3 separate regions of the Homo sapiens genome follow, and regions 1 and 2 are each linked to region 3. A link means that fine-mapping ties the variant in region 3 to the expression of a gene that starts in the linked region. Tissue or cell type: whole blood. Region 3 holds a variant in brackets; each other region holds the start of a gene. All regions are shown on one strand. Distances are between the middles of the regions.

Region 1 (2,609 bases), 180 kb after region 3:
GTCACCAATATAAAAGGAGAATGGCGAAAAAGAAAGAATAGCTACTATAACTATACCCACGGGATGTTTCTGAGGAACCCAGAGGTGAATGAAGTCCCCGGGGTGGTAAGTGAGGGAAGGGAGTGGAGAAATGAGCAGCACTATGAGGGGAAAAAATTTATCTCTAGATTACTTAGTAAACAAACACGTTTTTATTGAATGCCTGCTATGTGGTGACCCAGTAACTGTGGAGAACAATATAGATATTTAAGATTTAAATACTATCCTCCGGCGTTCTGAGACCCTCCTTTCTGTGGCATACAGGTCTTAGAATGTTAGATTCAAGAAGGTCTTAGATTTATGCATAAGTCCCCCATTTTTTAAACAAATAGAAGCAAACTGATTTTCCACTGACCTCTGTGTTTCTGAGGTGCACATCCTTGTTCCTGTGACTTTGACACCTCTGTTAATGGGTCTGTAATAAAAATTCCTGGAAGAAACCCAGAGATATTTTGACATTACACAACAGTTTCTCCCTCAGTCTCTGCCCCACAAGTGCCAGCTCCCTTGACCCTCAGAGCCCAAGTTGGGTAGCTCCTTACCTCTGGTTCGGGTGAGTCCCATTCCCATCTCTCTCATTTCAACTGCTCCAGTGGAAATGTGGTCTGGAATATGCATGAAAGGGGTGGATCCAGAATGTACGAAGAAACCAAGAAGAAGCTGAACAGGGAAGAATGGTACAGGAAGTTGTAAGGGGTATTTAAGGAAAGGAGAAGAGATGGGGCGGAAAGGTGCTTTCTGGATCAAAGTAGGGTGAAAACGTCGGGATGCAGGTTAGTCACACCACGGAGGGCCTCACCACTAGTCTGATTAATTTGCATTTTATCCTGTGGGAGATGAGGAGCGAAAGAAAGGGTTTTAGACTCTAGCTTTGGGGGTGGGGTGTCAACTCATGTCTCTGGGCTTAAGTTTCCACATCTGTTAAGCTGGAGAAGTAATACTTGCTGGGCTAACCAATGTACACAACCAGTCATAACCAAGTATCGATGGTGATAAGAACTAAACAGAAAACACAAATAACACTTAGCCAGTCTCCAAGGGGGTGGTTTAAGGTTAGGTGGCAAGCCTGAAGTAATTTCTAAAGTCCCTCAGGAAAAAAATTCTGAAACTTGAGCCACAAATTAAGAGGCAGACGGCTTTTCTCCTTGCAAATGACCTGCCACACAGTCCGTCACTGCCTCTGCTAGCTCTGCTACCCTTGGGCCCTGTCCACAGCCCACGTGGGAGACCTTTTCACGGGATCTACTCGGATGTCTGGGATCTGGCCACTACCGCAGGCTCGAGACAACCCAGGTGCGTATGCGCCGCGCACACGGAACAGCACAGGCTGCCCCGGGGCAGGGGCGGGGGCGGGGCCGAGGCCGGGGCGGAGCCAGGACTGGGAATCCCCGCGCCGTCCGGCCGGTGGGGGCGGTGGCCTGTGTGTGGGCGTGGCGGGCCTCTGCGCAGGCGCCGACCCACTCCCCTGGGCCGGGCGCGCGCCCGCGGCGGGTTCCGCTACCGCCGGGCGGAGGGGTGCGCGCGCACGAGCGAGCGGCCGTGACGTGCGCCGCGCTACGCCCGACGTCACGGGTCCGTGTGTAGTGGCTGCCGGGCTGCCTGCCCTCAGCGGCGGCGCCTGACGAGGGTGCCGCGGCCGCTGGGCGCAGCGTTCGGGGGTTGCACGGCCCGCGGCGGCGACGAAAACAACGACCAGGACGCTCGGCGCCCCTGTCCGCAGAGTCGCCACTCCCGCCTCTTCTCCGGTCTCTAGCGACGCGGGCCCGCGGCTTCCTCCTTTCCTGCCCAGTTCCCGCGGGCCTCGGGGTTGCAGCGGCTAGAAGTGCCGAGGAGCGCCAGGAGGACCCGGCCGGCTGCGAGGATTCACGCGCCCGCCACCCCGCCCGGCCCGGGCTTCATGTGAAAGAGGGACGGGCCTGGCCCCAAGGCCCGCGCCCGACTCCTCGCGCGCCCCTCCGGTCCCCGGGGGCCCTGCGGCAGCCCCCGACCTGGGGCCGCGGTGACAGGCCGCGCTGGGGCGGAGGGGCGGGCTCGGCGGGGGCGGCCCCTCCTTGGGCCTGCGGCTCTCTACGTCCCTGCGGAGCAGCCGGTACGTGCGTGTGTGCGTGCGCGCGCGCTTGTGTGTGTGTGTGTGTGTGTGTGCGCGCGTGTGTGTCGGGGGCCGCGGGCTGGGCGCCGGGAGGGGGGCTGGCGGCGGCCTAAGCGCCGCTCCAGGGGCGGAGATTTCGCTGGGTGATTGCCTAGCTGCGGGAGGGCGGACCTTGGGCCCCCTGCATCCAGTCCTAAAGCCCAGGTCAGCGCGAAGTAGGCTGCTGGGCTGTGTTAGCTGTCAGACACGTACCCTGCAGAGATTTTAGAAGAAAGGTTGCATCTGGTCTTGGGATGAAGCAGAAATGGTACATGCAGTAAGCGAAAAAGTGCTTGTCTTTGCACTGTCACAGTGTGGTAATCTTTTGATGTAAGGTTGTTTCCCCCTTTTCTCTTTACGGAATATTTAGGTAGCACTTAGGGTGCTCTTAGTCTGCGCCCGGCAGTTGTCATGCATTATCTCTCTTCATCTTCCCAGCTCA
Region 2 (2,609 bases), 36 kb after region 3:
GCTGTGGATGCAGCAGGCCCCAAGACAGCCGCCTGGGGAGGATTCTCTTAGAGGTGGCATCTGAGGACAGACGTAGGGCCCCCAGCAGGTCCAGGGAGATGGGGTGGGCTGATGAGCTGAGTGGTTCCTAACAATGATTCACTGAGGGTGTGTGTGAATCTCTGAACTAAAATCCTAAACAAAGTGCAGGGTTCTGATAAATTAGAGCAAAATTCAAGTCCAGGGTTACAAAGTGGAGCCTGAAGGGGAGGCCTCGTCATGGAGAATTTGGGGGATCTGGGTTGGGGGCCCCACACCCACCAGCTGTCTGACCTGGGCCAGCTCTCACAATCTCTGTGTCTCAAGTTTCGTCCTCTGTGAAATGGGGATGGGACACACACCACCTGGACAGCTCAAGGGGGACAGCCCATGTGAGCCCCGGTGCGGTCCCTCTCCTCAGCCACCTCTTCCCCCACCCCCCCCCCCACCACACCCCAGACCTGTCCTGCCTCTCCCTAGGGTCCCAGCCTTCCAGAGGTGACTAAAGCCAATTGCCCAAGGTACATGGGTAAGGCGGATAAGCCTGGGCTTTGGAGTCGAATCCGGCTCTGCTTCTTCCCGTGGGCACCTTCGCTTCCATGGTCCTCAGTCTCTGTGTCCATAAAATGGAGGCAATTCCACCACTGTGTTGCGAGGACGCAGTGGGATGTCACACACGGCACAGCTGACATCTGGCAGGGGCTCATCATGGGACCCAGGCTATCCATGATGTCCCATGATTCCACAGTGAGGCCCTCTAGCTGTGAGGAGGCTTCAGGGTGGGAGCAGCCTTGGCACCTGCCGTTCCCCTCCTGCAGGGAGTTTGCCCTTCTACAGCAGAGGGCTAGACAGCTTCTCCCCCTCCTCCTCCTCCTCAGCCCCCCAGGTGCTGCCCTTCAGCCCGATGGACTGAGTCCCCTGCTGCGGTTTCTGGTTTCCAGGCTCCTGAAGGGCTTCTCCACTCTCTATCCCTCAGACCTGTTCCATCTTATTTCCAGGGGACCTGCCTCCTGCCCAGCGACCCTCTTCAGAGAGGTGACCCCCTACTCCCCGCTGGCAGACACGCCCCCGGCACGCCCTTACCTTGTCAGGATGGGGGTCTGGCTGACTCCCCTTCCCCTCCACCCTGGGCACCCTGAAAGAGCCAGGAAAGGAGGCAATGTTGGGACTCCGGGTGTGTCAGGGAGTAAGGGACAGAGGAAGAAGAGGTAGGGCTCCAAGAGGAAATGACTGGGAGCACTCTGGGCCCACGTAATTTATTACAGGACTTTGTCCCTGGGCTCCAGGCACTTCCACTCCCACACGCCTCCCTCAGCCCCAGCTGGCAGAGCCTCATGATACCTGCTCTTTAACCCAGGCCCCTTCTGCAGAGCAGCGATGCATGCTGCCCGGAGGCCACCAGGGTTTGCAGTCTGTGCACCTGCTCTGGCCACCAGCCAGATCCCATGGTGACAGTCAGCTGACCATCCGGGGGCTCAGCATCTTCCCAGGTGCTGCATGGCAGGAGCTCTGCCCCCAAGCACCCCAAGCTCTAATTGAGGGTGGTAGTATAATATAAAATACAGTATATTTGGTCCTTGTTCCCGGTTGGTGTCACAGAACTCCTAAAACCCTTAGAATTTCCAAAGTGATCGTCGGGCATGGTGGCTCACGCCTGTAATCCCAGCATTTTGGGAGGCCGAGGCAGGCGGATCACAAGGTCAGGAGATCAAGACCATCCTGGCTAACACGGTGAAACCCCATCTCTACTAAAAACACACACACAAAAAAATTAGCTGGGCGTGGTGGCGGGCGCCTGTAGTCCCAGCTGGAGGTTGAGGAAGGAGAATGGCGTGAACCGGGGAGGTGGAGCTTGCAGTGAGCCAAGATCGGGCCACTGCACTCCAGCCTGGGTGACAGAGCGAGACTCCGTCTCAAACAAACAAACAAACAAAAAATTTCCCAAGTGATCATCTCATAATGAGTCCGTTTGATAACACCTGAAGTTATGCTGAGGAGGTGACCATGTGGGGGCCCTACCTAGCCTCAGCATGGGGTCAGTCACCAGAAAGACCTAGTGAATAGAGGGTTGGAACTTTCAGCCCCGCCTACTGACCTCTGGGAAGGTAAAACTCTTGAACAAGATTTGACAAGCTTCCACACATCTGAGGTCCCTGGGGGGTGGCATGCGGGAGAGGGCATGGAAGCTCCATGACCTTCCCACACAACTCACCTGTGCGTGTTTATTCGGCTGCTCATCTGTAATCCTTTGTAAAATCTTTTCCCACGAACTGGTCAATATGAGTGCCGTCCTGAGTTCCATGAGCTATGCTAGCAAATCCAACCTCAGGTGTGGGGCATGGGAACCCCGATTTATAGCCAATTGGTCAGAAGTATAGGTGGCAACCTAGGACTTGAGACTGCATTTGAAGTGGGGCAGTTTTGTGGGACTGAGCCCTTAACCTGTGGGATCTATGACTCCAGGTTGACAGTGTCTGATTGAATTGAATTATAGGACATCCAGACGGAGTCTGCTGGAGAACTGCTTGGACACCTGGTCAAGAGAGTGTTCTGTGTTGAGTGTGAAAGGAGCATACACCTGGGACATGTCT
Region 3 (2,756 bases):
TCTCTTTAAGAAAGAATCTGATGCAGGCAGTTTTTTTTTTTTTGGTACTAACTGACAGGCTGATCTTAAAATGTACTATATATGGAAAGGTAAATTACCTAGAATAGCCAAGTTTGAAAAAGAATAACAAAATTGGAGGGCACATGCTATCTGATTGCACCGCTTCCTATAGAAATCAAGACAGTGTAGCACTGGTGAAAGAATAGACAGAGAGGGGAATTGAAGATAATAGAGAATCCAGAAACAGCCCCATACATGGATGGTCAGTTGATTTTAGACAGGGGTGCAAAGGTAAGTCAACAGAGAAAAAATAGTCTTTTTGACAAATAGGACTGGAATAATAGAGTATCAACATGCAAAACAAACAAAGAGAGAAGGAGAAAAAGAAAGGAAGGAAGGAGAAAAAGAAAGGAAGGAAGGAGAAAAAGAAAGGAAGGAAGGAGAAAAAGAAAGGAAGGAAGGAGAAAAAGAAAGGAAGGAAGGAGAAAAAGAAAGGAAGGAAGGAGAAAAGATGAGAAAGAAGCAAGGAAGGAAAGACAGAAAAGTCTTTTTTTTTTTTTTTGAGACAGTCTCACTCTGTCGCCCAGGTTGGAGTGCAGTGGTGTGATCTCGGCTCTCTGCAAACTTTGCCTCCTGCGTTCAAGCGATTCTCCTGCCACAGCATCCCGAGTAGATGGGATTATAGGCGCATGCCACCATGCTCAACTAAGTTTTGTATTTTTAGTAGAGATGGGGTTTCCCCATGTTGACCAGGCTGGTCTTGAACTCCTGACCTCAAGCGATCTGACTGCCTTGGCCTCCCAAAGTTCTGGGATTACTGGCATAAGCCATCATGCCCAGCCAAAAGTCTTTTTTTCTATGCTGTGTACCTTGCACCATAGAAAAATATCGGATCACAAATGTAAATCATAAACTGGATCATCAACCTAAATATAAGACCTAAAACTACAAAACATATAGGAAAAACATAGGAGAAAATCTCTGGGTTAGGCAAAGATTTCTTAGATACAACACAAAAAAGCATGACCCATAAAAGGAAAAATTGAACTTCATCAAAATTTAAAACTTCTGCCCTGCAAAAGACCCTGTCTAGAGAATGAAAAGACAAGCCACAAACTCGGACACAATATAAGATGTAACACCTATCTTATAAAGGACTTGTATCCAGAACACAGAACGAACTCTTAAAACTCACTAATGGCCAGGCACAGTGGCTCACGCCTGTAATCCCAGCACTTTGGGAGGCCGAGGCGGGTGGATCACCTGAGGTCGGGAGTTTGAGACCAGCCTGACTAACATGGAGAAACCCCGTCTCTACTAAAAATACAAAATTAACTGGGCGTGGTGGTGCATGCCTATAATTCCAGCTACTCGGGAGGCTGAGGCAGGAGAATCGCTTGAACCTAACAGGCAGAGGTTGCAGTGAGCCGAGATCGTGCCATTGTGCTCCAGCCTGGGCAACAAGAGCGAAACTCCGTCTCAAAAAAATAAAAAACAAACAAACAAAAAACAAACAAGCAAAAAAAAAAAAAAAAACTCACTGGTAAGGAAATAGACCAATTAAAGAA[T/C]ATTAAAGAATAGGCAAAAGATTTGAACTGACACTTCACCAGAGAAGATATACAGAGCGGAGGTAAGCATGAGGAAGGACGCTAACATCCTTAGTCGTCAGGGCCACGGGAGTTACAAGCATGCTCCACACATATCAGAAGGCAGACCAGGTCCTTCACTGTGCCAGGTGCTGGTGGGGACACAGGACAACCAGAATGTTCCTGCTCTGCTGGTGGGAAAGCAAAATGCTGTGAGCATTTTGGAAAACATTTCGGAAGTTTCTGACAAAGTGAAATGGCTCACTTGCCTTTTGAGCCAACAATTTCACTCTTGCATATTTATCCAAGGGAAAGACCAATGTGCACACAAAAACCTGTATGTGAACATTTATAGAGGTTTTACTCCTAGCAGCTAAAAACGATAAACAACCCAGATGTCCTGAACGGGTGGAGAAGCTGTGGTACCTTCACGCAATGGAATTCTACTCAGCATTAAAAAGGAATGAATCACTGATGCAGGCAGCAACAAGGAAGAATCCCAAATAGCCAAGGTAACTAGACACAAAAGGCTACAAACCCTGTGATTTTACTTCTATGACGTTCTGGAAAAGACAAAACTGTGAAGGGGGGCGGGGGAAAGACAAATCAGTAGTTGCCAGGGGAGGGGTTGGGAAGACAGGGTGACTACGAAGGGGTGTGAGAGAAGATCTGGGGGGTGAAGGGAAAATTCTATTTCATGATGATGATGGGAACCACAGGCCTGTATGAGTTTGTCAAAACTCACAAAACTGTACTTGAAAAAGGTGAATATTTACTATATGTAAAGCAAACTTCAGTTGTAAAGAAACGAGAGAGACTGTGCTGTCCAGCAGCTGACAGCCTTGGGGCCGAGGCCACGGGCTTCTGGGCAGCCCCGACTAGACTGAGGCCGGGGTCACCGGGGCCGAAGCCAGGAGCCTTCTAAGGAGCAGTTTGCTCCAGAGCTGCCTGCTGGGTTGGCCAAGACTTAGATCTGGATCACAGCGTGAGCCTCTCCCGACCCAAGCTGCTTCCTCTCTTTTTCCCGTTCATAAGCGTCTGAGCAGCATCCAAGTTTGAAGGCTCATCCTGCCCACTCCTGCTTTCTCCCACTTTGCCTTCTGCAGGTTTACCCCTCAATAAACCTCTTGCAGTCCTCACTCTGGCCCAGCAACTGCTTTCCAGTTCAGT

What was found. PIP is the estimated chance that this variant, and not a neighbour inherited with it, causes the effect.
Region 1: it holds the start of MAP3K2, and the variant in region 3 is fine-mapped to the expression of MAP3K2 in whole blood (TOPMed, PIP above 0.99).
Region 2: MYO7B starts here. The variant in region 3 is fine-mapped to the expression of MYO7B in whole blood (TOPMed, PIP above 0.99).

Annotation. Positions count from the first base shown.
Region 1 is chr2:127,386,971-127,389,579 of GRCh38, reverse strand. MAP3K2 (mitogen-activated protein kinase kinase kinase 2) reads left to right here and starts at 1,605. Exons shown (of 17, transcript NM_001371910.2): 1 at 1,605-2,128. MAP3K2-DT (MAP3K2 divergent transcript) reads right to left here and starts at 2,142. Exons shown (of 4, transcript NR_187129.1): 1 at 2,028-2,142; 2 at 582-699; 3 at 395-469. RefSeq lists a silencer at 1,316-2,185.
Region 2 is chr2:127,534,324-127,536,932 of GRCh38, reverse strand. It overlaps MYO7B (myosin VIIB), which reads right to left and starts at 1,250. Exons shown (of 48, transcript NM_001393586.1): 1 at 1,102-1,250. RefSeq lists an enhancer at 368-1,218.
Region 3 is chr2:127,570,223-127,572,978 of GRCh38, reverse strand. The region is part of intron 6 of MYO7B (myosin VIIB); the gene reads right to left. It overlaps LOC105373609 (a long non-coding RNA gene), which reads left to right and starts at 2,017. Exons shown (of 3, transcript NR_132317.1): 1 at 2,017-2,098. The variant T/C (reference allele first, on the strand shown) is at 1,569.